Regions from separate parts of the Homo sapiens genome. Here region 1 is linked to region 2. A link means that fine-mapping ties the variant in region 2 to the expression of a gene that starts in the linked region. Tissue or cell type: non-classical monocytes. Region 2 holds a variant in brackets; the other region holds the start of a gene. All regions are shown on one strand. Distances are between the middles of the regions.

What was found.
Region 1: it holds the start of CCDC170, and the variant in region 2 is fine-mapped to the expression of CCDC170 in non-classical monocytes (Schmiedel 2018, PIP 0.95).

Annotation. Positions count from the first base shown.
Region 1 is chr6:151,485,961-151,501,970 of GRCh38, reverse strand. CCDC170 (coiled-coil domain containing 170) reads right to left here and starts at 7,954. Exons shown (of 11, transcript NM_025059.4): 1 at 7,786-7,954. The coding sequence starts at 7,842. LOC124901436 (a long non-coding RNA gene) reads left to right here and starts at 3,765. Exons shown (of 2, transcript XR_007059817.1): 1 at 3,765-3,835; 2 at 4,907-5,564.
Region 2 is chr6:151,514,918-151,530,927 of GRCh38, reverse strand. The region is part of intron 1 of CCDC170 (coiled-coil domain containing 170); the gene reads right to left. Among named protein-coding and RNA genes, the nearest start is that of CCDC170, 29 kb to the right of the region's middle. The variant TG/G (reference allele first, on the strand shown) is at 7,242.

The DNA.
Region 1 (16,010 bases), 29 kb after region 2:
CACCAATATCAAAGGAAAGAAAGTTGGAAGCAAAACAAAGAAATAAGGAAACCTTGGGTAAAAGAGCATAGCATAAATAATTCCTGGCTCAGCAAATGTTACTCCCTTTTTCAATTAAAAAAAATCAAGTTGTCCTTGAACATGGAAAAAAGTAAGTCTTTATAATTATTAGTCAACTCAATTCAAGTACAAACCAAGGAGTATTCACTATTGTTTGAAATACACTACACATTATATTTGGTAACAGTAAGTAAATACACAAGCAGTCTCTTTAAAATATGCAAAGAAAAAGTTTGGCATTCAAAAAGCTCTCCCCTACCTTTTCTTTGAAGATTTTATCTCATCTCTAAAGCCAGGTGGTCAAAGAGCAGATAGATACCAAGAGAAACTAAATGTTAAAGCTAAAATGAAGTTGGATGTGTAAACGGATTAACTGGTTATCATTTATTGAGACTTTTTTATTCTGAAATAATTTTAGAATTCCAAAAAAGTTACAAAACAAAACAGAGTTTCTATATGCCCTCTAGCCAGCTTCCCCTAATAATAACGACTTATACAACTAAGGTAATCTATTAAAACCAAGACATTGACATTGTTACAACACTATTAACTAAGTAATAGGCCTTATTCCAATATAATCAGTTTTTTTTTCACTAATGTCCTTTTTCTAGTCCAGAAGCCATTTAGTTTTCATTTTTCCTTAGTCTCCCCAAATCCTGACCTTGACACTTTTGAAGAGTCCTGGTCAACATATTGTAGAATATCCTTCAAGGTGGGTTTGTCTAACGTTTGCTCATAATTAGATAGTCATTATTTTTAATAGTATAAAGCATTTTAATTTAAAACAAGGGGAAACATTTAATTACTCATCTAATTCACTTCCTACCAATAGAGTACAATTTCTAAGCTTTTGTCTGGCTTATTATTTCATAGACAAAAGGCATTTATTCCCTTGGGTAATTGGGGAAAAATAATCCTGTTAATTTTTACAGCCACATCCCAAATATTTTACATATTTCTATTCTTCACAGTGACGTCACCAAATTTGCATTTTAGCACTTTTAGCAGCTCTCTTACCAAATTTTTGTCTGGTTGATCTACAAAATACTAAGAGATATGTTTAAAATATTCTCTTTAGTTGTGGATTTGTCTATTTGTCCTTATAGATTTTTGCTTCTGCCAATTTTTGTTTTTCTATTTTGATGCTGTGTTCTTAGGAACATATACATTTAGAATTATTACAACTACCTGATGAATGAAATTTTTATCATTATTTAGTGACTCTCTTTACCACTACTAATGCTTTTCTTGTGTTAAAGTATTTTGCATAATATTAATATAGCCAATCAATTTTATTTTGGTTGTTATGTGCCTGATACACATTTTTATACACTTTTACTTTCAACCTTCCCATATCTTTTTGTTTAAATGTGTCTTTCATAAATAGTATATATTTAGATTTTTTTAATGCAATATGGCTTTTCTTAGTTAACTAAGCATTTTCTCCATATATATTTATCATAATTACTGATATGTTTGTATTTCTTTCAACTATAATTTATGTTTTCTTTTTTCCCTATTCCTTCTGTTTCTTTTTCTCTATATTCTCTTTTTGGGGGTGGTGGGGTGGAGATTGGTTTTCTTTATATCTAGAGAAGGCTTCTGACTTAAGTTCATATGAAGACATGCAACTAGAGTCAGATCTCTTCTTAAACTTGATTTTGAGAAAAAGGAGTAGAACAAAAAAAAAAAAAACAGAGCAAACCAGAAGAGGGAGGAAATGGTTCTTTAAAAAGTGGAAATAGATACTACCTCATACCCATTAGAAAGGCTACAATAAAGGAAGAAAACACACAGAAAATAACAAGTGGGGGTGAGGATGTGGAGAAATGAAAACCTTTGTGCACTGCTGGTGAGAATGTAAAATGTGTGCAGCCACTACGGAAACAGTGGCAGTTCTTCAAAAAAGTAATAATAGGATTACCATAGGATCCAGCAATTTCACTTCGGGTATATATCCCTCAAAATTGAAAGCAGGGTCTCACAGAGATATTGGTTCACTCATTTTCATAGCAGCATTATTTACAACAGCCAAAAGATAGAAACAACACAAGTGTGCAGAGACAGATGAATGGATAAACAGAACATGACATATGCATACAATGGAATATATTTCAAGCTTAAAAAGGAAGGAAATTCTGATACATGTTACATCATGAAGAAACGTTGAGGACATTATGCTAAGTGAAATAAGCCAGTCATTGAAGGACAAATACAGTCTGATTCCACTTATACAGAGAGAGTGCGTAGAATAGTCAAATACAGCATGATTCCACTTATGCAGCGTGCCTAAAATAGTCAAATACGGTCTGATTCCACTTATACAGCGTGCCTAGAATAGTCAAATACAGTATGATTCCACTTATACAGCATGCCTAGAATAGTCAAATACAGTCTGATTCCACTTATACAGAGTGCCTAGAATAGTCAAATACAGTCTGATTCCACTTATACAGCGTGCCTAGAATAGTCAAATACAGTCTGATTCCACTTATACAGCGTGCCTAGAAGAGTCAAATACAGTCTGATTCCACTTATACAGCGTGCCTAGAAGAGTCAAATACAGTCTGATTCCACTTATACAGTGTGCCTAGAAGAGTCAAATACAGTCTGATTCCACTTATACAGTGTGCCTAGAAGAGTCAAATACAGTCTGATTCCACTTATACAGCATGCCTAGAAGAGTCAAATACAGTCTGATTCCACTTATGCAGCGTGCCTAAAATAGTCAAATACAGTCTGATTCCACTTATACAGCGTGCCTAGAATAGTCAAATACAGTATGATTCCACTTATACAGCATGCCTAGAATAGTCAAATACAGTCTGATTCCACTTATACAGAGTGCCTAGAATAGTCAAATACAGTCTGATTCCACTTATACAGCGTGCCTAGAATAGTCAAATACAGTCTGATTCCACTTATACAGTGTGCCTAGAAGAGTCAAATACAGTCTGATTCCACTTATACAGTGTGCCTAGAAGAGTCAAATACAGTCTGATTCCACTTATACAGAGTGCTTAGAATAGTCAAATACAGTATGATTCCACTTATACAGCGTGCCTAGAATAGTCAAATACAGTCTGATTCCACTTATACAGCATGCCTAGAATAGTTTAATACAGTCTGATTGTACTTATACAGCGTGCCTAGAATACTGAAATACAGTCTGATTCCACTTATACACCGTGCCTAGAATAGTCAAATACAGTCTGATTCCACTTATACAGCATGCCTAGAATAGTTAAATACAGTCTGATTCCACTTATACAGCATGCCTAGAATAGTCAAATTCATAAAGAAAGAAAGTAGAATGGTGGTTGTTAGGAGCTGTGGGGAGGAGGAAATGTGAAGTTATTGCTTAATGAGTACAGAGTTTCAGTTTTGCAAGATGAACAAAGGTTTGAAGATGGCTTGTGGCAACAGTTGCACAACAATGTGAATGTACTTAATGCCACTAAACTGTACATTTGTAAGTTAAGATGGCAAATTTTATGTTATATGTATTTTATATGAGGTTTTTAAAAGTAGAAATGATGGGAAGAAAAAGGAAAACAGACTTTAACTCCTTTATAGTTAGCTATGACCAGCTCTAAGTCCTTTGTTTTGAGGAACTATAGCTGCTGATAGAGTGTGTTGCTATTTACATTTGCTTCTCATAACAATTCTGTTGATAGTTATTCTAATTAACCCTTGTTTTACAGAAAGGAAAGAGATGCTCAAATTCCCAACAATGGTATCTACTGGAGCTGTAACTTTGATCTAGGTTTTCCAGGTATGTGAAAACACTGCCACAGCAAGAGAGCCTACAAGCCACCATATGTCTGTGGCTTCTCACTGGTGTCAGAGGATTTGGAATCCAAGCACTTTCCACAGAACTATTGCTACAGCTTTTTGCTGACTGGTGATCCTATTTTATAATTAGGTCACTTTTCTTTTTTTTTTTTTTTTTTTTTTTGAGATGGTGTGTTCAGTGGCACAATCTTGGCTCACTGCAACCTCTGCCTCCCAGGTTCAGGCAATTCTCCTGCCTCAGCCTCCCCAGTAACTGGGATTACAGGCACCTGCCACCAAGCCTGGCTACTTTTTGTATTTTTAGTACAGACGGGGTTTTACCATGTTAGCCAGGATGGTCTCGAACTCCTGACCTCAAGTGAGCCTCCCGCCTCAGCCTCCCAAAGTGCTGGGATTACAAGCATGAGCCACCGCACCCAGCACATTTTCACTGGGTAGCGTTATTTCAAATGCATGACAAAGTTATGCAGTCTTACTGAAAGCTATGTTTGTAAACTTCCCCCAAAGCATATCTCTTTCCTTCATGTTTGGGCTGCTCCACTTCAATTCTCATAATATTGCTGTTAGTATTTGTCACATTTTCCATCCCAGTAAGGCTGTGCTGGTGATCGCATTATAGGTAAATCCAACTTGAGAAGAGTGCAGCATTAAATTTTAGTGTTGATGAAGGAGTAATCTTTTTATGTGTCTGTTTTTCTTGATTGTAAACTCTTTTTTAATTTTTATTTTATTTTTGAGCCAGGGTCTTGTTCTGTTGCCCAGGCTGGGGTGCAGTAGTGCGATCAAGGCTCACAACAGCCTCAACTTCCTGGGCTCAAGTGATCCTCCCACCTCAGCCTCCCAAGTAGCTAGGACTACAGGCCATGCCTGGGTACTTTTTGTGTTTTTTGTAGAGACGGGGTTTTGCCATGTTGCCCAGTCTGGTCTTAAACTCTTGGGCTCAAGCGATCCACACACCTCTGCCTCCCAAAGTGGATTGTAAACTGTCAATTCTTCATTATGAGCAGGGTCAATCTCCAATTCATTTTTGTATCCTCTGTCCCTCCTACAGATTCTCAAAACACTGACTATTGAGATGGTGGCTGAAGTACTGATGGAAGCATTGGTGATGATGGTAGGAGTAGGTGCAGTGGTGTTGACACCAAAGCAAATTCCAAAAGTTACAAAGAATAACGATAGCTAATATTGATATGCACTTATTCTGTCAGACACTCTCTTGAGTGCCTTACATTTATTAACCGTGAAATCCTCAAACTACGTTATGCGATAAGTTTTATGATTCCATGTTTTAGAAGAAAAAACTAAAATGCTGATACATTAATTGTTTTGACCAAGATGTCACAGATGAGTGGTATAATCAGGATTGTTTGAATCTAGTTTTGAGTCTAAAACTAGTATCTCAGTCTCTACAGTATTTTACTTTTCCAGAAAGTTGCAGACTATCACTGCTTTGTAATTTAATGTTTTCAGTCTGGCATGGTAGGAAAAGTACAAAGCTTTTGAAAGAAAGATACAAGTCCCTGCTCCATCATTTCTAATCCAGTAAGCTATTTCCTCATCTTATATAGTGAGAAATTTCTGCCCCGCCTATCTAAATTATAAGATGATCTCAGATAAAGTATTTTGCAAACTGAACATTTAATTGTAATAAATGCTGCCTTTTCTGCAGCTACTTTTGTTCTCAATAAAATTTAGTTATTTTAAGCCAATTAAAATCTCATGCTTAATGGACATTTTCCTTTTGTAGGCAGTGACTTATGCTAAAAATTTCTATCCGAATCAATATTATTACTCAACTAATATGATTTCTTATTTATTGCTAAAGGGGAAAAATCTGGCAGAGGCCACCAGCTGGGGACATCACCAATAATGGGATAAGCTGATATATGCCCCTCCTGATGTGATACTCTGAGACATAACATCTCTTATGTTATTCCTACCCAAAAATCTAATCACGAAGGACAATCAGAGAAACTTACTCTATAAAACGAATGACCTGGACTCTGCAAAAATGTCAGTATCATCAAAGACAAAAACAAACAAACAAAAAAACAAACAAAAAAAATGTGAAGAACTGTTCCAGGTTTGAAGAGACTGGAGACATAACTAAATACAGTGTGTGATCCTGAGATGGAAAAAAAATTGGCAATAAATGGCATAATTGGGACAAGTGGCAAAGTTTTAGTAGGTCGTGTATATTAGATAATATTATTGTCACAATGCTAAACATCCCGATTTTGATCATTGTATGTTCGTTAGAGAATGCCCTTATTCATAGGAGATAACACACCAGAGTATTTACAGATGAAAGGTCATAGGGGACCAGGCATGGTAGTGCATCTCTGTAATCCCAGCACTTTGGGAGTCTGAGGCAGGTGGATCGCTTGAGCTCAGGAGTTTGAGACCAGCCTGAGCAACACGATAAAACTCTGCCTCTGCAAAGAACACAAAAATTATCCAGGCATCATGGCATGCCTGGAGTCCCAGCTACTCTGGAGGCTGAGGTGAGAGGATCGTTTGAACCCAGGGGTGTCAAGGCGGCGGCGAGCCGAGATCGTGCCACTGCACTCGAGCCTGGGTAACAAGGTGAGACCCTGTCTGAAAAAAAGAAGAAAGAAAGAAAAGGAGGGAGGGAGAGAACAAGAGAAAAAAAGGAGAGAGAAAGAAAGAATCATGATGGCTGTAATTTACTCTCAATGGGCTCACCAAAAAAAATATATATTAATAATATAAAAATACCACATACTTATGTATGGTTAAGACACCACATTGGGATAAAAATTAATAAAGTCAAATATGAAAATGTCAGATGAAAGAAAAAACATCTAGTAACTGGCCTCTGAGTTAGAAAGAAAGAAAAAATAGTTTTATTTGCACACAGTGGTACTTATTTTCCACAAATATTCCAGGAATCAGAGAAATCTAAATACAGGTCAGATGTAAAACAACAATCAAAGCTGCTGAATATTAGAAGAATTCCGATGGCACGTTGGAGAATCCAACTCATGTTTTGAATCCACTACATCCCCCAGGGATATCTATGGTCAGTACACAGCGTGGTAGGAAAAGTCCAAAACTTTGGAAAGAAAGAAAAATCCTCCATCATTTACTAATTGGGTGAGTTACTTGCGGTTAGCAGTTGAGCTGAACACAATTCCCCCATCTCTGGCAACTACTCCCAATACACACGATACCCGGTGGGCCCCGATGCCAAGGCCAAAGGGGGATTCTTAACCCAGACTGAGCCAGCCAGATCTTCTTGTGCGCCCAAGTATGCATATGCCCGTGTTCGTGTGTGTGCGCGCCCGTGTTTGTTCGCGTATGTGCCTGTTCGCGTGTGTGCACGAGCGTCTGTGTATGCGCGCATGTTCGTGTGTGTGTGCGCGCGCGCATTGGTACATCTAATACCTGAAAGTCCCCAGTACCTAAGTAACTCCTGGGAGTAAATGAGTAGATGCATTCAGGAACAACTGAATTACCAACGTTTCTGGATTACTTCGCAACGAAAGGGCCGGTGACTCTACTCCGGGCTGGCCCTCCTCCTGCCACATCAGATTTTCCAGAAATTGCTCCGAAGCACACTTCAGTAGCTAAGCAGGGAAAGTTAAATGAAGGAATTCTTTGCTCCCAGGGGTGGCGGGGAGGAACTGCCCGGCCACAGTCTTTCGAATGTCACCGGTTTAAATGGTCAGAGAAGCAGAGTGGCACAACCTAAAATTCAGACGCGCTCCGCAAACTCCGGTCCTGCCCATCCCCTCCTGAAATCAGCGCCCTGGCAGTCCCAGGCCACAGCCCTCGCGGGCACAGAGCTGCTCTGATTCTGCCCACGCCTCCGGGAGGAAAAGGGTGCAAATCAGGGGCGCCTCGGCCCCTCCTGGGTCGTCTATCCCCAGGGCCACCCCCGCGCGCGGCCGGCGGCTGGGACCGTACCTCGGGCGCTGGCGAAGCGGCACCCAGCGCGATATGGCTGGTGCAGTCCAGGCTCATGACGACCCGAGCCCGGGGGCGCGCTCGGACCCGGAACCGGCCCTGAGGAAGCGGCGGCGCCGGGAGCCGGCGGGTGGCGCGGGTGTCTCCTCGGGCAACGGGTAAACACCGCGGGGACGCGGCGGCGCGCGGCTGCGCGCGAGTAGGGTGGCCCGGCCGCAGGAGGCCGGGGTGGACCCCGAACCCCCGAGCGTGGCCTCCGTGGCGAGGGCCTGCAACTGAGCGGCCGAAACTGCCAGGGCGACCTGGGGGGAGTCGGCGGGGATAACGGTCGGTCCTCCCGGTGGGACTCTGCAGTGAATGCAATTCCAGGCCTCATCCTTATGTCAGCGATAAATACAGCCAGTGGGCACTGTGAACGGTGCTGGCGCGAGTGAGGCATAGGAAACTTCACAAGGGTGAACGGAGCATTTATTTAGCACACACTGTGTGCAAATGTGTCTGCGAGCGTGCAACCTGTGCAGGTCCGGGTCCTGCGCTTGGTTTAATACTCAGCTGTCCCAGTCTTGACGTTTTTAGGAAGTTTTGAACAAGGTGTCCTGCATTTTCATTCTGTACCGGGGTCCACAAATTATGTAGCCTGCCCTGGTGTGCGTTCTTTCATTTCACCTTCTCAACAACCCTGCCTGGAAGTACGGGTACTAGTAATACCAGTGTTAGTAACAGCCACAGCTGCTCATTATGAAATACTCGTGCTCGTCCATGCACTGTTCTAAGTGCTTCCCACGTATGATCAATCTCCTTAAATGAAACAAGATTATGAAGTGGATGTTAGAATAATCCATCTGCAAGACAAGGCAACAGTCACAGGGAAATAAAATAAAATTTCCAAGATGTACAGGGTAAGTGGTAGAATGAAGATCAGGCTCCAGATCATAACACTAAAGCACAGAGAAGATGAGTAACTTGTTTAAGGTCCCACAATTTGTAGCAGAATCTGAAAATGGAATCTGCATTCACCTCACTTTAAAGCTTTTGGTGGGCCAGGCGCGGTGGCTCACTCCTGTAATCCCAACACTTTTGGGAGGCTGAGATGGGTGGATCACTTGAGGTCAGGAGTTTGAGACCAGCCTGGCCAAGAAGGTGAAACCCTGTCTCTACTAAAAATACAAAAATTAGCCGGGCGTGGTAGCGGACACCTGTAATACAGCTATTTGAGAGGCTGAGGCAGGGAAAATCATTTGAACCTGGGAGGCAGAGGTTGCAGTGAGCCAAGATTGAGCCACTGCACTCCAGCCTGGGTGACAGAGCAAGAATCTGCCTCAAAAAAAAAAAAAAAAAAAAAGAAAAAAGCCTTTAGTAGACTCCTATGCTGTTTGAGACACATGAAATCAAACAGGTGGGAGGATTGCTTGAGGCCAGGAGTTTGAGACCAGCCTGGGCAATACAGCAAGACTCTATCTCTACAAGTTTTTTTTTTTTTTTTTTAAATTAGCCAGGCATGGTGGTGCACACCTGTAGTCCTAGCTACTCAGAAGGCTAAGGCGGGGCCAGGTGAGGTGGCTCATACCTATAATCCCAGTACTTTGGGAGGCTGAGGCAGGTGGATCACCTGAGGTCAGGAGTTCGAGACCAGCCTGGCCAACATAGTGAAACCCTGTCTCTACTAAAAATACAAAAATTAGCTAGGTGTGGTGGCACATGCCTGTAATCCCAGCTACTTGGGAGGCTGAGGCAGGAGAATCGCTTGAACCTGGGAGGCGGAGGTTGCAATAAGCTGAGATAGCACCACTGTACTCCAGCCTGGGTGACAGAGCAAGACGCCATCTTAAAAAAAAAAAAAAAAAAGAAAGCTAAAGCAGGAGGATAGCTTTGAGCCCAGGAGGTCAAGGCTGCAGTGAGCTATGATCACCACTGCACTCCAGCCTGGGCGACAGAGCAAGAGCATGTCTCTAAAGACAACACAAAAAGGCAAAATCAGAGCTATGGCAGCTTTTCTTGGATTCCATCAGTCATCCTATGTGCATTCATATTGACCCTGAGGATTTCTTCATCTGGACAATGGCTTTTGAGCTCACGGTAACTTTGCCATATATCTAATCCAGAATCATCTCAAGGCTTTCACTTGATGCACCGTTAAAGAAAAAGTTCTTAATGAAAACTTAGGCTTTCAGAAATCTCCTATTAATAGTACAATTTGGAGTAAACACATTTTTAAGTTGTAGTTTTTCCTTGCAGTAGAACCACTACAAACTTGTCAAATTTTCTTTTCTTTTTTTTTTTCAAACAGAGTTTCGCTCGTTACCTAGGCTGGAGTTCAATGGAGCGATCTCTGCTCACTGCAAACTCCGCCCCCTGGATTCAAGCGATTCTCCTGCCTCAGCCTCCCGACTAGCTGGGATTACAGGCATGTGCCACCACACCCTGCTAATTTTGTATTTTTAGTAGAGACAGGGTTTCACCATGTTGGCCAAGCTGGTCTCGAAGTCCTGACCTCAGGTGATCTACCTGCCTCCACCTCTCAAAGTGCTGGGATTACAGGCGTGAGCCACTGCGCCCGGCCAAACTTGTTAAATTTTCAATGAACCAACACTGCCAGAGGAAACACAAAATTGATGAAAACTCAAGACACCTGGAAGAGAACCAGATGGAAATCCTTCTCCATTAACTCTAATCCAATTGTTTAAGAATCCCATGTCATAAAGCCTAATTCTGCTCAGTTTGGTCAACCTTGTAGCTCTTATTCATGAGAATAGAAGATATAAATTTGCAGTCTTTAAAAATCAGCATGAAACAGATTTTTCTCTGTATAAAACAATGTGATTTTGTGGTAACTGGAGGCAGAAAAAGTACTTGGCTCAGCCCTCCCCAGATGCCTTTGAGATTTCTGGGATATCAAGACATGAGCCAAGTGACTCTTCAAGCAGCATCTGATGATGTGATGACGTCAAAGAAGTTGAGCTGGGGGGACCCCGAGGTCTGGACCTTGGAGGAGATGACGATTTGGGCTAGCTGGGACCATGGTGGTAGAACATTTCAGGCTGGGAGTTGGAGGGGGGCGGTCTCTAGGTCTGATAACAGTTTAAGCAAAGGAGGGAAGAAAAAATGTACAAACAAGTTCCAGTCCAGACCTCTCACAAAACCCCGTGTGTGGGCAGCACCGTGTGGCCCACAATACCTCCGTACAGACCTCTGTTTTGGAGTTTTCTTGTGGTGTCGTAAGTTTAGAACTCTGGTTTCCTCCTTTTGCTTGTTTGCTTGTTTGTTTTACAGATGTACATGTTTCTCACGGGAACATTTGTAATATGATAACTTTTGGAGCTTTTGACTTCCGATTGAAAACTTGTCACTGAAATCACTCCTATGACATTTTAATTGTCTAAAGGTTGTTTAAAAGAGTAGGCTTAATTTTAGTATTTTCCTAAACACTTGCTGTGATCTAAATGTTGGTGCTCGCCACCCCAAATTCATTTGTTGGAACCTAATACCCATTGTGATAGTGCTAAGAAGTGGGGCCTTTGGGAAATGATGAAGTCATGGGGGCACCACCCTCATGATTGACATTAGCCCTTCTAAAAGTGGCTCGGATTTGTTAAAGGATACAAAGTGACAGCTAGACAAGGGGAATCAGTTCTAGTGTTCCATACCACTGTTTGATGACTACTGTTCACTATAGTACATTATATAGTTTCACATAGCTAGAAGGAGGATATTGAATGTTCCTAATACAAAGAAATAATAAATGTTTGAGATGATGGATCTGCTAATTATCCTGGTCACTATATATTATTTGTATCAAAACTTCACTATGAATCCCATAAATATATACAATCATATGTCAATTTAAAAAACACATTAAAATTTTTAGCCGGCGCAGTGGCTCACGCCTGTAATCCCAGCACTTTGGGAGGACAAGGCAGGCGGATCATGAGGTCAGGAGATCAAGACCATCCTGGCTAACACGGTGAAACCCCGTCTCTACTAAAAATACAAAAAATTAGCCGGGTGTGGTGGCAGGCGCCTGTAGTCCCAGCTGCTTGGGAGGCTGAGGCAGGAGAATGGTGTGATCCTGGGAGGTAGAGCTTGTAGTGAGCCGAGATTGCACCACTGCACTGCAGCCTGGGCGACAGAGTGAGACGCCATCTCAAAAAAAAAAAAAAAAAAATTAAAATTTTTAAATGAAGAAAAAATTTTCAAAAGCAAAATTCTTTCTTAAAAAGACATATCTATCTATATCTATATATAAAGCAACATTTCTGAAACTTAAAAAATGTGGCTTGAGTGAGCTCCCTTGCTTCTTCCTCCATGTGAGGATATAGCAAGACAGGCCGGGCATGGTGGCTCAGGCTTGTAATTTCAGCACTTTGGGAGGCCAAGGTGGCCAGATCACCTGAGGTCGGGAGTTCAAGACCAGCCTGAAACCCCATCTCTACAAAAAATTAGCCAGGCGTGGTGGCGGCTGCCTATAATCCCAGCTACTCAGGAAGGATGATACACGAGAATCACTTGAACCCGGGAGGCAGAGGCTGTAGTGAGCCAAGATTGCGCCACTGCACTCTAGCTAAGTGACAAAGCTAGACTCCGTCTCAAAAAAAAAAAAGAGGACACCGCAAGAAGGTGCCATCCATCCATAAGGAACAGGAGGAGCTCACCAGGCACCAATCTGTTGGCTCCTTGATCTTGGGCTTTCTGGCCTCCAGAACTGTGAGAAATAAATGTCTATTGTTTATAAATTCCCCAGTCTAAGGTATTTTTGTTATAGCAGCCTGAATGGACTAAGTCCTAGCTGAACGAAATGTTCTCAAAACCTGCAAGCAGCTCCTTCAGTCATCTACCAGAAGATTACTTGGTGAAGTACAGACCACTGAAACCTGCTATTCCAAGCGAGTGGCAGCTCTTAAAGGTCTTTAAAGCCATTCTCAGTCCTTTCCTAGACTTGTTTCACTTGTTTGCTGATCCTGATTTATCTAATAAATGAACACTCTTCAGCAATGACTTTAATTCATCCTAAAACAGATCCCCGTCCCTTATTTGTTCTATTGTGACATAAAGTTGGTTGTCAAACAATTTGTCAGTGTCATTTCCAAAGATTTTCATACATTTCATTTCATTTATTTTAAGGTCCATTTTCTATCTTTCCCCATACATATGACTGTTTCCAATATATTTTTACACCTAAAATAAATGTGATCCATCTTATAACTTTATTATACGCTAAGCTTAGAGAACCACTGAGAGCTCACTTTATGAAAAATAAACTGAAAGACCTTCAGTTTCACTATTAAGGTAAATCACAATTGTTCTTTTAAAAAACATCTTATCAAAAATGTAAAGTACATTTCAAGACATTTTAGTTGGGTAAATATAAGGTTCTAAAAAACACCTACAATAAACATATTTTTCTGGTCCTATATGATGTTTATTTGACTGTAAATTCAATACATTTGAATTCTGTTTTAATTGGTATTTTCTTAACTAGTCAAAAAGATTTGTTGTATATAATATAATACCACCATTCATGGTCTTACTGAAGTGATCTTTCAGTTGTGAAATTGCAAGTTTAAAATACTTTAATATTCTTGGAAAAATTTAGAGGGATAAACTGGGCAATCAATGTTAACATTTTTCTGTTCTAGGAGGAGAAAGCACTTTCTAGCAAAGGACTGCCAGAAGGACCACATCACATGTTTTTTTTATAGGAAAAGTGTCAACCAATCGGGAGGATTATGGAAAGTCTGGGGTGAAGCAAGAGCTCCACGAGCCTTCTTTGAATCCTCTGTCCTCTGAATCACCTGGCAGCCAATTATTCCTAAAGTTTTTTTCCCTTTGGGGGTTTCCCTAGAAGAGCTGAAGTCTACTACTAATAAGAACATAATTAGTTTGGGGGATGAATAACATTTTTCTTCACTAAGGCTCAAAGTTAGTGTTTCCTATCATCAAAATTTATTCCTAATTTCCACTTTTTGTTGTTGTTGTTGCCCAGGCTGGAGTGCAGTGGCACAATCTCAGCTCACCGCAACCTCCACCTCCTGGGTTCAAGTGATTCTCCTGACTCAGCCTCCCGAGTAGCTGGGATTACAGGCATGCGCCACCATGCCTGGCTAATTTTGTATTTTTAGTAGAGACGGGGTTTCTCCACGTTGGTCAGGCTGGTCTCGAACTTCCAACCTCAGGTGATCCACCTGCCTCGGCCTCCCAAAGTGCTGGGATTACAGGCATGAGCCACCACACCTGGCCAAATTTCCACTTCTTAATGCTTATCTGGAATGAAAATTTACATGTTTCATCTTTAAAAATGTCATTCACACAGATGGGTACTGCTAACTATTGCTTTCATTTCATAAGCATGTGATTTAAATTGAGCATATTAATCACTCAGAAGGCATCTATAAAATTACCTTAGATTTTTATGTTGATATTTATCTTTTAGCATGTCATTACGCTGCAGATTAAAAGCCTCCAGTTGAAGGTTAGATGGAAGCTCCTCAACTACAGTTGAATATTAATATATTTTTGAAATATGGGAATTTCCTTTGCATGTGCATTGAGGGCTGAATATTTGTGTGAGAATGAAGATTTCACATCTTGTTTTAAATTTCATCAGCATAGAAAGGATATAGGACAGCTTGACAGCCTGTACTTAGAACAACATTAGCAGTTATTGCATATAGTACTGTCTTACCTTGTAATTATACCTTGAGTTGATTAATAAATATTACCAACTCTACAGCAAAAGCTAATTTCCAAAGCCATTCAGTATTCAATAATACTGACTGAAGGCTGTGTTTCTTATTTGGAAAAACTTTCCATCTCAGCCCTGAGTTCAAAAAATTGAAATGAAACATTGTCACCACTGATCCATCAAATTTCTGTGCATCAGAGCAAGTCAGGATATATGGTTTCTATTTCCAGCAAAAACTTGTAGAAGTGACAATGGTTAAGTCCACAAGAGCGATGAAGTTCAACATTTACACTACTGACTTAATAATGCCTGATAAATACAAATATTTTCTGTGATGTGTTTGCTGATGAATAATATCATGAAAAACCACAGGCTTTTCATTTTCAAAAGCTTTGTAAATGTACCCAATTAAACCCTTTTCTGGTGAACACATATTTTTACCGTCATCAGTTTTAACACATCTTATCAGATTCTACTTCAGATTGTACTGAGTTCGTGTTTTCTGTTTCTATTAAAATATTCTCACCTGTATTCTCTCCACACAGGCTTTTTTTGATTACTTCAGTCTTAGCACTGATATTTCAAATAACAACTGCTCAGTATTGTTAACATTTGTGAACTTGTCAAGAGCCAAAGAAAATCATTTGCCTTGTTTTTAAGGCAAAAATATGTTCATGTTGCTCCCAACATCCTCAACCCTGAACAACCAGTCTCACTGAAAGGCAAGTTTATCTTCTCTAAGAGCACGTTTCTTTGGCTGCAGCAATTAAACATGATTTAATGAACTCAACATTGGTAAATGGCTCTCTTTGCCTGGCTAATAAATTAACCACTCAGAAACTGACTTTGGTTGCGGCCTCATTTTATCTTTTATTTTTGTGAGACAGTTCTGCTGTGGTCAGATATTCCATTTTAAATTTTCTAATTTTTCTAACTGTTACTTTTCTGTGAGTTAAGGATATTATAACAAGTGCTTAGTCTAGTTATGTCAATGTCTAAGTATTCTTTTAGCACATCTATAGTGTCATGTTTATAGTAAACATAATGCTTTGGCATTTAATTCTACAAATATAATCTACTATCCACTGTCTTAAAAGCATGACATCCAAAATCCACGTTTCTTGTATTAACATGATGAGTAAGCTCTGGTAATTTTAAAAGTAAAGTAAATGTCACCATAGTACAATACATACGGTACTTTACCAAACACGGTAGAGTTATAACTGTACCCCTATTATTTGTGATTTGTGGATGAGCAGGGCAAAATGATAAGAGCACCACATGTAGTCTCTTTTGCAGCCCCTCAATCCTGCTGTTTGAGTGTGAAAGTAACCAGAGACAAAACATAAACAAATGTGGCTATGTTCCTATAAAACTACCTATAGACCCCAAAATTTGAATTTTATGTCACTTATCTTCATGTGTCACAAGATATTATTATTCTTTTTTTTAAAAACCAACCAAAAATTTAAAACTGACTCTTAGCTTATGGGCCATATAAAAACAGGTAACTATGGGCCATAGTTTGCCAACCCCTGGTCTAGGT
Region 2 (16,010 bases):
ACACCAGTAAGAAAACCAATGACCTAAGAGAAAACATCTATAGAAGAACTAACAATTATCAGAAGGGCCATAAATGGCTAATAAAATGAGAAATGTCCCACCTCACTCATCATCAATTAAATATAAATTTAATTATTATTTCTGATCTTTAAAACTAGCAACATTTTAAATATATTTAATAATTAAGCATATTGGCCAGGTGCAGTGGCTCACACCTGTAATCCTAGCACTTTGGGAGGCTAGGCCGATCATGAGGTCAGGAGTTCAAGACCAGCCTGACCAACATGGTGAAACCCAGTCTCTACTAAACATACAAAAATTAGCTGGGCATGGTGGCATATGCCTGTAATCCCAGCTACTCAGGAGGCTGAGGCAGGAGAATCACTTGAACTCAGGAGGCAGAGGTTGCAGTGAGCCAAGATCACGCCACTGCACTCCAGCCTGGCTGACAGAGCGAGACTCTGTCTCAAAATAATAATAATAATTATTATTATTATCATTATTAATCATATGAAAAGATAGTTCTATAAGAAAGACATGCTAATACACTGCTCAAATAAAGATAAACTGGTACAAAATTTCCAGAAAAGTATTTGGCAATATGTATCATTAAAAAATTTTTAAAGTTAACACTATTTGTCCTGGTGAATTTCTTTCTCATGATCTTATCAAAAGAAATGGAAATAAACCCAAAAATTAAACACAAAAATATTCAGAAAGGTACTCTTTAGCAACATTTTCAAAAAATCTGCCATAGCAAATATTTAAAACAACTAGAGTTCAAAAATAAAAGAATGTTAATATAAAGAAAAAACAATACTGATACAGTCACACAATGAAATTATATTCAGTAATTAAAAATTATATTTTTGGAGAAAAATGTCATTAGGTCCTGATACATTAATCCTCATAAATGGGTTGATGCTGTTATTCTGGGAGTAGGTTAGGTATCACCAGAGTGACTTTGTTATAAAATAAAGTTCTCTCTCACTCATGCTTTCTGGCCCTTCTACCCTTCCACCGTGGGATGACCCTCACCAGACACCACACCATGCTTTTGGACTTCCCAGTCTCTAGAACTATGAACGGAATAAACTTATTTTCCTCATAAATTACTCAGTCTGTGGTATTCTGTTATAGCAACAGAAACTGGACTAAGACACTGCCGCTCCACTCTCCAATTATCTCCTTTATGAAAATACTCATACATGTGCATAGAGATATGTATAAAGATATTCGTTATACCATTATTTTGTTTTTGTTTTTGTTTTTGAGACAGAGCCTAGCTCTGTCAGCAGGGTGGAGTGCAGTGGCTCTATGTCAGCTCACTGCAACCTCCGCCTCCCGGGTTCAAGCGATTCTCCTGCCTCAGCCTCCCGAGTAGCTGAGACTACAGGCATGCACCACAATGCCCAGCTAATTTTTGTATTTTTAGTGGAGACGGGGTTTCACCATGTTGGCCCGGCTGGTCTCGATCTCTTGACCTCGTGATCCTCCCACCACAGCCTCCCAAAGTGCTGCGATTACAGGTGTGAGTCACTATGCCCAGGAATACAATTATTAGTAATAGCAGCAAGAAGGATGAGGATGTTGAAACCATAAATTCCTGTTGACAAAGCAATTATCAAATAAAAATATTTCTATACTATTGAATCCTATGCAACAGGTAATATGAGATAGATCTGTATGCTTTGGCATGGTAATATCCTTAAGACATCACTGAACAAAAATAAGATAATATAAATTCATTGTTTGTTACTGTTTTTCATAAAACACATGCAGGAGGAAAAGTATTGTGTTTTTGTCTATAAATATATTTAGAGACAAGAAAAAAAAGAATTTTACAGAATCCCCATCACCTGATAACAGTACTTACCCCTGAGGGTGACACGACAATTGGAGTTGTGGTGAGAGGCGCAGTGGTTTGACTTTTTCAATAAGGATGTATTTACTCATTATTTGTACAACTAAATATAATTTAAAGAAAAGAAAAACACTGGGAATAAGTGTTAACTATGGTTATCTTTTGGTTGTAAGGTAGACTTTTTTTTTCTTTATTATATGCTTATATATACATATATATATATTTTGAGACAGAGTCTTACTCTGTTGTCCAGGCTGGAGTGCAGTGGCACGATCTTGGCTCACTGCAACCTCTACCTCCTGTATTCAAGCGATTCTCCTGCCTCAGCCTCCCAAGTAGCTGGGACTACAGGCATGCGCCACCACATTTGGCTAATTTTTGTATTTTTAGTAGAGATGGGGTTTCACCATGTTGTCCAGGCTGGTCTTGAACTCAACTGATCCACTCGCCTCAGCCTCCCAAAGTGCTGGGATTACAGGCATGAGCCACCACACCCCACCTATGCTTCTATATTTACAAATCCTTTACAATAACTGTATTACCTTCACAATTAGAACATTCCCTCTTAAATTTAAAAAAAGAGACAAGGACAGACAAAAATCACCAACCCTGCTATGCTGTGTCTTTATGAAGAAGGTGATGACAAAGAAACAACCATAGGTAACATAGACTTGAACAGATATGAAAGCTGACATTTTGGGGGTTTTCTCTCTTAATTCAGCCCTCCTGGAGTTCATAAAATTTTCTGAAAATTCTTCAACTTTTCCTGTATCAAACAATCTTCCCTTAAAAAAATTTTTCCCCTATTTAAAATGGCAAGATTAAATAAAAACTCATCCATTTGTCCTCACCTGAGGACAATCTAAGTTATTAGGTACCTCTCAGCTAACCCATGAAGCAATTTTAGATTAGTTTTAGAGAGCCAACTACATATGATTTGATTCTGCTACTGATATTATTATGATAATGATTGAAATTGTCTCACGGGGTGGCTCACAGTCTTTTCAGAATAAAGGGTGGTTTCAAAGCTCAATGGCATAAAGCAAAGATAAGCTTATTCATAATTTAGTATACAATGTGCCAAATTATCTGACCTGGGGACAATGTCTTGGGCCAGTCTTGCTACTATGGTATTTAGTTGTCTTATTATCCCACGGACGAAAAAATAAGAAGAAAATCACTGCCTGCCCCTAACACACAAAAGCTCCTAAATCCATTCCATTCTTATCATTCTATCCCATAACCAATCTACTCTTTGTCCCAGCATTATCCCATGCTGCAGTGCACAATTGTATTACCGCAGGCTCTTCCATTATGGAATGCCTCCTTGTGCCTGTCTCTTCTCTACCTCTCCCTCTCTCTCTTTCTATTTCTCTCTCCCTCTCTTTCTCCCCACGCCCCCACCAAGCTTCCAGTGGTGCCCAGTAAGCAACTCCTTCTAAGAAGCTCTCCCCTACTGTCCATGTTTTTCTCACTACATAAAGTTTCTTCCCTAATTTACAGTGTATACATTAAGTCTTGAAAGTTGCATTTCTCCAATGTTATCATTCATCCTGTCAATTTTTGACTATTTGCCAATTCTCCCCACTTGGGAGGACTTTCCTGGCCCTCCTGGTTTTCTTCCTTCTTCTATCTGCTCGTGGTTTCTGGGGCCCACTAGAGCCTGCAGAGGAGAGTGTGGCAGCTGTGAGATCCAGAAAATATATCTGAGCATCTATACCTTAGCATTTGTGGGAAAAGTTTTGGAAGAAGACATTTCTGCATAAAATCAAGTACGGTGAAAAAACTGATCATATTGTTTTTACATTATTTTCCATCTCTTTTCTCTTGGGTGTTACTCTTATTCAGTTAAAAATCCTTCTAATATGGCTAAGCTCGATGGCTCACACCTGTAATCCCAGCACTTTGGGAGGCTGAGGCAGGTGGATCACTTGAGGCCAGGAGTTCGTAGCCAGCCTGACCAACATGGCAAAACCCTATTGAAAATGCAAAAAAAAAAAAAAAAAAAAAAAATAGCTAAGCATGGTGGTGCACACCTCTAGTCCCAGCTACTCAGGAGGCTGAGGCACAAGAATTGCTTGAGCCTGGGAGGCAGAGGTTGTAGTGACAATGATGGTGCCACTGCAATCCAGCGTGGGTGACAGAGTGAGACCCTGTCTCAAAAAAAATTCTTCTAATTCAACATCCTTGTTGAAGTGAAGGCAGCATTCTAAAATATTCTTAACACTCTTGCTCCCCTGAGTCTTCTTTTCATTGAGTGGGCAGGGGCTGCACTTAGAAAAACTTTCACTCTTCACAAAACAGTCCTGTTATTCCCTCACCTAAAAATCAGGCAATTAAGGCCTAAAATGGGAATTATATTGCTGGACAGAAAACAAGTAGAAGGCCAGGGGCCGTGACTCACGCCATAATCCCAGCTACTCAGGAGGCTGAGGCAGGAGAATCGCTTGGACCCAGGAGGCGGAGTTTGCAGTGAGACAAGATCGCACCACTGCACTCCAGTCTGGCGACAGAGCGAGTCTCCATCTCAAAAAAAAAAAAAAAGGCCAGGCGGGGTGGCTCATGCCTGTAATCCCAGTACTATGGGAGGCCAAGGCAAGCGGATCACTAGGTCAAGAGATTGAGACCATCCTGGCCAACATGGTGAAACCCCATCTCTACAAAAAATACAAAAATTAGCTGGGCGTGGTAGCGCATGCCTGTAGTTCCAGCTACTAGGAAGGCTGAGGCAGGAGAATGACTTGAACCTAGGAGGTGGAGGTGCAGTGAGCCAAGATCATGCCACTGCACTCCAGCCTGGACATCAGAGAGAGACGCCATCTCAAAAAAAAAGAAAAAGAAAACAAGTAGAAGACAGATGAAAGAAAGAAAGAGAGAGAGGAGAGAGAGAGAGAAGGAAGGAGGGAAGGAGGGAGAGAGGGAGGGAGGGAAGGAAGGAAGGAAGAAAGGAAGGAAGGAAGGAAGGAAGAAAGGAAGGAAGGAAGGAAGGAAGGACTGGTACCAGATCTGGAAGCAATGATTGCTTTTCTTTGCTGTATAACAAATAAAAACAAATTTAAAGTATGCTTAATGGAGGGATATGTAAAATGTCCCAGCTACTGCAGGAGACACTTTTCTTTCCTGTATAATAAATAAAAACAAATTTAAAGTATTCTTAATGAAGGGACATATAAAATGTCCCAGCCACTGTAGGGGACACTTTGGCATATACCCTGTGACCCACAGTCCTACTTCTAATTTTATATGCATGTTCATGTTTTGTAAGTGTCCATCAATACATGAATTAGTTAACTATAGTGTCATGCACATCTGTATGAAGAGACCACCCAACAGGCTTTGTGTGAGCAATAAAGCTTTTTAATCACCTGGGTGCAGGCGGGCTGAGTCCAAAAAGAGAGTCAGCAAAGGGTGGTGGGATTATCATTAGTTCTTAAAGGTTTGGGATAGGTGGTAGAGGTAGGAGCAATTTTTGTGGTCAGGGGGTGGATCTTACAAAGTACATTCTCAAGGGTGGGGAGAATATTACAAAGTACCTTCTTAAGGGTGGGGAAATATCACAAAGTACATTATCCCAAGGGTGGGGAGGGTGTATTGTCATAAGGTCAATTGATCAGTTAGGGTGGGGCAGGAACAAATCACAATGGTGGAATGTCATCAGTTAAGGCAGGACCTGGCTATTTTCACTTCTTTTGTGGTTCTGCAGTTGCTTCAGGCCATCTGGATGTATACGTGCAGGTCACAGGGGATATGATGGCTTAGCTTGGGCTCAGAGGCCTGACATATAGTACATTCATAAATGGAAATCTCCAAAGCAGTTAAAAGAATCAGACTAGGCTGGGTGTGGTGGCTCACGCCTGTAATCCCAGCACTTTGGGAGGCCGAGGCAGGCGGATCACAAGGTCAGGAGATTGAGACTATCCTGGCTAACACAGTGAAACCCTGTCTCTACTAAAAATACAAAAAATTAGCTGGGTGCAGTGGCGGGCACCTATAGTCCCAGCCACTAGGGAGGCTGAAGCAGGAGAATGGCGTGAACCTGGGAGGCGGAGTTTGCAGTGAGCCGAGATTGCACCACTGCACTCCAGCCTGGGCAATAGAGTGAGACTCCGTCTCAAAAAAAAAAAAAAAAAAAAAGAATCAGACTAAATCCATTTGGATCTATTTGGAGATAAATAGATCTCAAAAACATACTGTTTTTTAAATAAAGTAAATTAGAGAACAAAACTAACAGTATGACACCATTTATGTCTTAAAAGTACATACCAAACTTTTGTGTATAGGCACAATGTGTATAGGCACATTGAAATGAAATGAAAAAAGTATTTTTAATGGTCTGAAGGACACTCACCAAACTTACATCATAATAACCTCTGAACAATGGGAGAAGATGATCAAGATTAGAGGTGGTTGTCAATGGAAACTGTAGCTTCATTTGTAATGTTCTAATTTTTAAAGAAAAAGTGACTATAATTTTAGTATTAAAATCAATTTCTTAATTAAGTAAAAGACAACTGGAAGCATGTTTTAAAAGTCCAATTTATTAGGTTTTCAGTTTTACATCCTAATATTCATATATTGCAGCCTTCAAGAATCTGAAAACTGTTTGTGAATTCCATGTTCATGAATTCTTTATTGGCTTCAGAGGCCACAGGAAATCCTGAACTTGGACCCCTGCATGGTCAAAGTAGAAGTCAAAAGGAGAATCACTGAGTTCCAGCTGAGAGAGGAGAAAGGAAGAAACTAGTCAGGCAGACAGTTAGGGTGGGTCCTCAGATGAATTCTTTCGAACTGAAGAACAGCCTGCAGGCACAGATAAGGGAACTTGCACAGGGGGGCTTGCCCAGACATGCCTGCAATGGAAAATTCCATCCCCTAACACATGCATAGTAAGGAGAACAAAGCAATATGGAGTAACTTAAGCTAAGCGCCCACATGTGCACTAGGAGGTCAGGGTGGAGCTACCAGAAATTTGCACCTTATGCAAATGAGATGCCCAGCCCTCATCGGTTTCTTACAAAAGCCTTTGCATTCAACTGCAAAAACCAGCAACCCTCTTCTGGATCCCCTCTCCCCTGCAGTGAGCTTTCTCCTTTCGCTTATTAAACTTTCGCTCCAACCTCACCCTTTAATTCTCTTGGTCCTGAGACAAAGTACTCCAGGTGATAACTCACACAAAGAGACCAATACATTGTGGTGCATTGGCCAGTCTGTAACACAGCAGTGTTTGCAATGCTTTTGTTGTGCAAGTACACATTTTGACTACATTTGGGACAGGAAATTCATTGTTAAAATAAACGGAATATAAATAGTGTTCTGGCCAAAATATTAAGTGTCTTCAAGGATTAAAACAAGAATTCAATGATTTTTTTTTTTTTTT[TG/G]AGACAGAGTCTTACTCTGTCACCCAGGCTGTAGTACAACAGCACAATCTCAGCTCACTGCAACCTCCACCTCCTGGGTTCAAGAGATTTTCCTGCCTCAGCGTCCCGAGTAGCTGGGATTACAGGCGTGCACCATCACGCCTGGCTAATTTTTGTATTTTTAGTAGAGACGGGGTTTCACCATATTGGCCAGACTGGTCTCAAACTCCTGGCCTCAAGTGATCCACCCACCTCAGCCTCCCAAATGCTGGGATTACAGGCGTGAGCCACCATGCCTGGCTGCCAAGAATTCAATTTTTTTTAATACTTTTATTAACTGGGAAAACATCTCCAATTAGCAAAGGATATGCCAGAGAGAAAATTAAATAGCTTCTGTGATGCACTAAATCCTTGCTTTATTTTCCAAGGTGTCCTTAGCTCTGCCTGAAGAAGACTCAATAAAAATAATGCTGCTTCATCATTTCTAGGACCCATTTCTTCTGTTAGACAGAATCCATAGCATCCAGCTGCACAAACTCCTGAGAGCAACAGAGCCTCCACAGTGGCCCATTTTGTAAACACATGAGAAGAAAGTGGGAAATTGTAGCAGTATGTAATCTTCCCATGTCTCACTTTAGCAGAAATCAACCTTCCTATAACAATTCTACTGTAACTGGAAAGCGGTCCCATTCCAGACCCCAAGAGAGGGTTCTTGGATCTTGTGCAAGAAAGAATTCAGGGCAAGTCCACAGAATAAGGTAAAAGCAAGCTTATTAAGAAAGTAAAGGAATAAAAGAATGGCTACTCTCTAGACAGCAGATAGAGCAGGGCATTCTCGAAAGCAAGAAGAGAAATGCGCACACCTTAGGTGCGATGCTTGTTTCTATGTAAGATACGATGCTTGTTTATATGCAAGGTTGTTATAAAGTTTCAGTGCCACAAAAGGAATAGCACTCGAATATAACATTTTCTTTTTAATTCTCAGCAAGGCAAGTTACTTCTGTAGAAGGGTGCACCCTTAAAGACGGAGCAATGGTGAGCGCACACTTGGACAAGGGAGGGTAAGGGGTTCTTTTCCCTGATGCACGTGGCCCCTGCTGCTGTGTTGTTCTCCTATTGGCTAGGGTTAGACTGCACAGGCTAAACTAATTCCCATTGGCTAATTTAAAGAGAATGACGGGGTGAGTACTTTGGCGCCAGTCAGGGCAGAGCAGGTAGCAGGTAATTGGAATGAGTTGGGGTTGAGCAGGTGATCGGAATGAGTCAGGGTGGAGTAGGTCATTGAAAAAGGTTCCTTTACAAGGAAGTTAAGTTTAAAAGTAGAAGTCAAAGAATTGAACATACTACATATTAATTCTTTGAAAAGAAATTGAGAACTCATATCTAACAAGATACAATGCTTGTTTACATGTAAGATAACAAAGCAAAAAACATGAGGAAGATGTTCTCTACAAGGCCTTGCAATAAAGGATTGTTAATCTTTGTGTAACTACTGTCTTCTGCAAGAATCTATAGTATTATCTTTAAAGTGAAATTTTTTTTTTTTGACATGGAATTTCACTCTTGTCACCCAGGCTGGAGTGCAATGGCACAATCTCAGCTCGCTGCAACCTCCACCTCCCAGGTTCAGGCGATTCTCCTGCCTCAGCCTTCCGAGTAGCTGGGATGACAGGCACATGCCAACATGCCCAACAAATTTTTTTTTTTTTTTTTTTTTTTTTGAGACAGAGTCTCGCTCAGTCACCCAGGCTGGAGTGCAGTGGCTCGATCTCCACTCACTACAAGCTCCGCCTCCTGGGTTCACACCGTCCTCCTGCCTCAGCCTCCTGAGTAGCTGGGACTACAGGGGCCTGCCACCACGCCCAGCTAATTTTTTTGTATTTTTTTAGTAGAGACGGGATTTCACAATGTTGGCCAGGATGGTCGCTATCTCCTGACCTCGTGATCCACCCTCCTTGGCCTCCCAAAGTGCTGGGATTACTGGCGTGAGCCACCACGCCTGGCCCGAAACTTACGCTTAAACTAAGAATGCTTTTGTTCTTAAGACAGTGGGACATCAAGACATTTCCTTGGTCTATTTCCTGGGTCACTTAAGTCCTGGGTCTGTTCAATAAACATTATTAACTTGTTCCCTTAACTGTAAATATCCTGTTAACTAAGAATGCCTAACCTCCTAGGAATGTGACCCAGTAGATCTCAGCCTCATTTTACCCAATCCCTATCCAAGATGGAGTTACTCTGATTTGAACGCCTCTGATACTTGCAATGAGACAAAGTCCACAATTAGATTTTTATTATTTTCTTTCACAATTTTGTTTTCAGAACAAATAGTATTAACAGCAGATTACAAATCTTATACTGTAGTGCTTAGCAACTCTCATTACTTATCAGAAGGATAACAAGAGTGTCCTCAACACTCTTTTTGGGACAGGCATAGGTAGACTCCAGTTTAGGATCCCATCCTTTCAAAAGATGGAACCCACTGTCTCCTTTATAACCAGAGCTCACCCTCAATTTAATAAAGAGAGTAACAGGAGGCAGCTGGGGAGGGTAAGAAGGAATCAGAAGCCAATGAACAAAATCAGCAAATGAACAGCATGCACACCTTCATAGTAATCCTCTCATTCTTCTAATATTTACAATTTAAACTCTTCCCAAGCCATTTTTGTAACCACCCAATGGGTTCACCTTGCCTGCTGCCTAGACAGAGCCAATTTATCAAGACAGGGGAATTGCAATAGAGAAAGAGTTAATTCATGCAGAGCTGGTTGTGCAGGAGACCAGAGTTTTCTTATTACTCAAATCAGTCTCTCTGAGCTTCAGGAATCAGAGTTTTTAAGGATAACTTGGTGGGTGGGGGGAAGCCAGTGAACCAGGAATGTTGACTGGTTAAGTAAGAGATGGGAAGTTGAAATTGTCCTCTTGTGCTGAGTCAGTTCCTAGCTGGGGGCCACAAGATCAGATGGGCCAGTTTATCAATCTGGGTCATGCCAGCTGATCCATCAAGTGCAGGGTCTGCAAAATGTCTCAAGCATGGATCTTAGGAGCAGTTTAGGGAGGGTCAGAGTCTTGTAGCCTCCAGCTGCAATGACTCCTTAACCATAATTTCTAATCTTGTGGCTAATGTCTTAGTACTACAAAGGCAGTCTAGTCCCCAGGCAAGAAGGAGGTTTGTTTTGGGAAAGTGTTGTTATCTTTATTTTAAACTCTAAACCAAATTCCTCCCAAAGTTATTTCAGCCTACACCTAGGAAGGAACAAGGACAGCTTAAAGGTTACAAACAAGATGGAGTCAGTTAGATTAGATCTCTTTCACTGTCTCAGTCATAATTTCGCAAAGGCGGTTTCATTATTTGTCTGCCCAGGGTCCTGTGTCTGTACATCTTTGCCGATCACAGTTCCCACTGACCATATTTCTGTCTTTCAGTTCTCCTCTCACAGCAACCCCTGTTTCTCCCTCCTGGCACTTATCACAAGGGGAAGGAATAAGCTGTGTGTTTAATTTTTAATAAGTAATCAATGTCTTCCTCCCTCCCCTACTCAGGACCTCACAATGTAAACATGCAATACTTATTTGTAGAATTAAGTGAATGAATGTGTCAGAGGCATTGGAACCAGAGTGGCTCCATCTTGAATAGGGGCTGGGTAAAATGAGGCTGAGACCTGCATCTCCCAGAGGTTAGGCATTCTTTATCACAGGATGAGATAGGAGATCATAAAGTATAGTCACAAAGACCCTGCTGATAAAACAGGATGCAATAAAGAAGCTGGCCAAAACCCACCAAAATCAAGATGGCAATGAAAGTAACCTCTGGTCATCCTCACTGCTCATTATATGCTAATTATAATACATTGGTATGCTAAAAGACACTCCTACCACTAGCATAACGATTTTCAAATGTCATGGCAACTTCAGGTTATTACCCTGTATGGTCTAAAAAGAAGACAAACCCTCCGGTCTGGGAATTCCTCATCCCTTTCCTAGAAAACTCATGAATAATATATGTTGCGGGAAGTCAGGAACCCCGAACGGAGGGACCGGCTGGAGCCATGGCAGAGGAACATAAATTGTGAAGATTTCATTTTAATATGGACATGTATCAGTTCCCAAAATTAATACTTTTATAATTTCTTATGCCTGTCTTTACTTTAATCTCTCAATCCTCTTAACTTCGTAAGCTGAGAGTGTACATTACCTCAGGACCACTATTGTGTTATCTGTACAAATTGATTGTAAAACATATGTGTTTGAACAATATGAAATCAGTGCACCTTGAAAAAGAACGGAATAACAGCGATTTTCAGGGACCAAGGGAAGACAACCATAGGGTCTGACTGCCTGCGGGGTCGGGCAGAATAGAGCCATATTTTTCTTCTTGCAGAGAGCCTATAAATGGACATGCAAGTAGGGAAGATATCACTAAATTCTTTTCCCAGCAAGGAATATTAATAATTAATACCCTGGGGAAGGAATGCATTCCTCGGGGGAGGTCCATAAATGGCCGCTCTGGGAGTGTCTGTCTTATGCAGTTGAGATAAGGACTGAAATACACCCTGGTCTCTTGCAGTACCCTCAGGCTTATTAGGGTGGGGAAAAAAATCCCACCCTGGTGAATTTGAGGTCAGACCGATTCTCTGCTCTTGAGCCCTGTTTTCTGTTGTTTAAGATGCTTATTAAGACAATACATGCACAGCTGAACATAGACCCTTATCAGGAGTTTTTGATTTCGCCCTTTGCCTTGTGATCTTTGCTTTGCCCTTTGCCTTGTGATCTTTATTGGCTTCAGAAGCACGTGATCTTCATTCTCCTTTTTGCCCTCTGAAGCATGTGATCTTTGTGACCTGCTCCCTGTTTGTACACCCCTTCCCCTTTTAAAGTCCTTAATAAAAACCTGCTGGCTTTGCAGCTCAGGTGGGCATCATGGTCCTACCGATATGTGATGTCACCCATGGAGGCCCAGCTGTAAAATTCCTCTCTGTACTCTTTCTCTTTATTTCTCAGCCGCCTGACCCTTAGGGAAAATAGAAAGAACCTACGTTGAAATATTGGGGGCTGGTTCCCCTGATACATATACCCCTTGTTTATCACATAATCAAGAAATAACTATAAAAATAGCCAGCCAGCAGCCCTCGAGGCTGCTCTGCCTATGGAGTAGGCACCCTTTTATTCCTTTACTTTATTAATAAACTTGCTTTCACTTTACTCTGTGAACTCACCCAAATTCTTTCTTGAACAAGATCCAAGAACCCTCTCTTGGGGGTCTGGATTGGGACTCCTTCCTGGTAACAAATGTATGCTTTTTTTACTAACATCTTAGTCCTCACATTTGATTGACTTGACAGTCTCGTCCCATTCTCATCTGCTAAACCAAATCCCCTCAGCCCCTGGAGCTGCCTGATTTCTCCAAGATCCCACCCCCTGGAGATGGGCTGGCTTAGAAAGTGCACAGATTTTCCCACACTAAGAAAGATAGCTTGCAACACTCCATCTCAGCCTGGTCCACCCAGAAGCATTAACAAACTAAAAAACATGGATGTATACCATAACTACAAGTCAAAAGGAGAAAGGTTGCCTTCTTCTGGACTCTGTGGCTGTTCTGGGACATGCTTCTCCTGTACCATGGCAGGACCATAAACTGAAGGCAAGGCCCCACCTTGCTAGTGTTTCGTATAATCTTTACTGTTTGCAAAAGGCCTGGATTTTTGAGAATTCCTTTAATTTCCATCCAAAGCTTAAGGGCTATTTCTTATCCAGTGTGAAAACAAGAAAGAATGAAAAAAAAAAAAGAAGCAAATGGCCGTAAAGAAAAATTAAAGGAGGGAAAAAATAAGAGGAAGCACAGGAGTATTATATATGTGCTGTGAGTATTGTACACTTCCTAGAGGTAGACCACAGCTTGACTTGGCCCTTCCAAGTCGACAGACATGAGTCACATTGATACAGGAGTTAAGAAGAAATTATTAGTGGCCGGGCACGGTGGCTCACGCCTGTAATCCCAGCACTTTGGGAGGCCGAGGTGGGTGGATCACGAGGTCAGGAGTTCGAGACCAGCCTGACCAACATGGTGAAACCCCGTCTCTACTAAAAATACAAAAAGAAAAAAAAAATTAGCCAGGCATGGTGTTGGGCACCAGTAATCTCAGCTACTCAGGAGACTGAGGCAGGAGAATTGCTTGAACCCAGGAGGCAGAGGCTGCAGTGAGCCGAGATTGTGCCACTGCACGCAGCCTGGGTGACAGTGCAGGACTCCATCTCAAAAAAAAAAAAAAAAAGAAGAAGAAGAAATCATTAGTAAGGGTATGGGAGTCCTCAGTAAGGTTTTCTTTTAAATGAAAAGCAGCCCCAAAATAATTTTCTTTTGTTTTTTGTTTACTGAGACACAGTCTCACTCTTGTTGCCCAGGATGGAGTGCAATGGGGTGATCTTGGCTCACTGCAACCTCCACCTCCCAGATTCAAGCAATTCTCCTGCCTCAGCCTCCCGAGTAGATGGGATTATAGGCATGTGCCACCACACTTGGCTAATTTTGTATTTTTAGTAGAGACAGTTTCTCCATGTTGGTCAGGCTGGTCTCCAACTCCTGACCTCAGGTATCCATCCACCTAGGCCTCCCAAAGTGCTAGGATTATAGGCGTGAGCCACTGTGCCCGGCCCCAAAATCATTTTCTTTCCTAACAAAGAGCAGCTTGTAAAATCAAGCTGCAGGCATAGACAAGTAAGCTGGAAGCTTGCATGGGTGGAAGTTGGCAGTTGTGCCAAAAGGAAAAGGCTTCCTGGGACTAGGCATGTTCATCTTCTCTCTTTTTGCCAAAGCATGTGCACAGTAAGGAAAAGACAATATGGCACCAGCCAGGCAAAGACTCCATTTGCATAATAAGATTAGGGTGGGACCACCAGCCTTCCCCACGCACTAGGTAAACATCGCACCTGGTTGAACCAATCTCTGGGCCCTACGTAAATCAGACACTGTCTCCTCAAGCCTGCCTGTAAAATCTGGTACAGTCTAGAGCTGACCAGTTTTTCCCTTTCAGGAACTCCTCTCTCTTTCAAGGGAGAGAGCTGTTCTTCTTTCTCTTTCTTTTGCCTATCAAACCTCTGCTCCTAAACTCACTCCTCATGTGTGTCTGTGTCCTTAATCTTCTTGGTGCGAGATGACAAACCCTGGGTATTTACCCTAGACAACAACACCGCTTCAACATGATTTACTAGGACCTCATGGTAAAGCAAAGAACCTGCTCAGTTACAACACACCCATTCATGACAAGAAATCATGACAAATTTCAAAACCCACAAAACAATCTATCAACTAAAAATAACATTCTAAGCCTTCCAACTGACTGAATGGAGACCTCCTCTTGGCCAAGGGCATTCCAAAGTAAACCTGAAACTAGTTCAAGCCTTGATGGAAAATGGAGGCCCAACATACTTCATTATACCCTTCTCCCTTTGGAATTCAGACACAACTGACCAGCATTAACATTAAAACAGAGATCTTAAGACTGAGAGAACAGACTCCTGTAGCAATAAGATACCAAATTCCAACCTGACTCTAGTATAGCATTATATGACAGATAACAGCCCTGAAAGAAATCGAAGTATTTTACCTCAAAATATATTTGTCTTTTCTTTTTTTTTTTTTTCTGAGACAGAATCTTGCTCTGTCACCAGGCTGGAGTGCAGTGGCGCGATCTCAGCTCACTGCAACCTCTGCCTCCAGGGTTCAAGTGATTCTCCTGCCTCAGCCTCCCGAGTAGCTGGGACTACAGGCATGTGCCACCACACCCAGCTAATTTTTGTATTTTTAGTAGAGACAGGGTTTCACCATGTTGGCCAGGATGGTCTTGATCTCTTGACCTCGTGATCCACCCGCTTCGGACTTCCAAAGAGTTGAGATTATAGGCATGAGCCACTGCGCCACACTTTCTTTGTCATATTTTTAAGTGGTCCTGCAAAGCTGTCTCTTGTGAAGGAAATGTATATTCTGTAAAGAATCTCTCTCCTTTATTAGGTCTTTTCAGGAGAGTCTACCACCTTTTATTGGTCTGATAAGAAGACATTTACCATCTATTGTCTCTGAAGCCTGCTACCTGGAGGCATCATCTATATAACAAGAACCTGGGCTTCCCACCTGCACAGTGGCTCACGCCTACAATCCTAGCACTTTGGGAGGCCAAGGCAGGCAGATCACCTGAGGTCAGGAGTTCCAGACCAGACTGGCCAATATGGTGAGACCCTGTCTCTACTAAAAATACAAAAATTAGCCAGGTGTGGTGATGTGCACCTGTAGTCCCAGTTACTTGGGAGGCTGAGGCAGGAGAATCGCTTGAACCTGGGAGGCAGAGGTTGCAGTGAGCCAAGATCACACCATTGCACTTCAGTCTGGGTGACAGAGTGAGACTCCGTCTCAATAAATAAGTAAATAAATTGATGGAGACTTGTCTCAGATACTTTTTGATTTACAAATCTAATGGCGTAATGCCAATGCCTAAAACAGGGTCCAAACAATGTAGTCCAAGTAGACATCTCTCCCAGGCTCTTGCATTTCAAGGATAATTTTGAAGTAGAGCATAGAATGAATGAAATGCATATTCTTCAGCCAATCCTTTATAATAGCATTTGACTACATTTGTTTAGTTAATATAAGAAACACAATTTCCAAGACCTCTTGTTCAGGTATTAAGAGTGCATTCCTCATCACCTTGATCCAGTTTCTTGCAGAGACCAGGTGAGTGAGTGTGAAGGCCTCATTTATCTGACACCAACCTACCAAGCTTTCAAAAGTCACATAG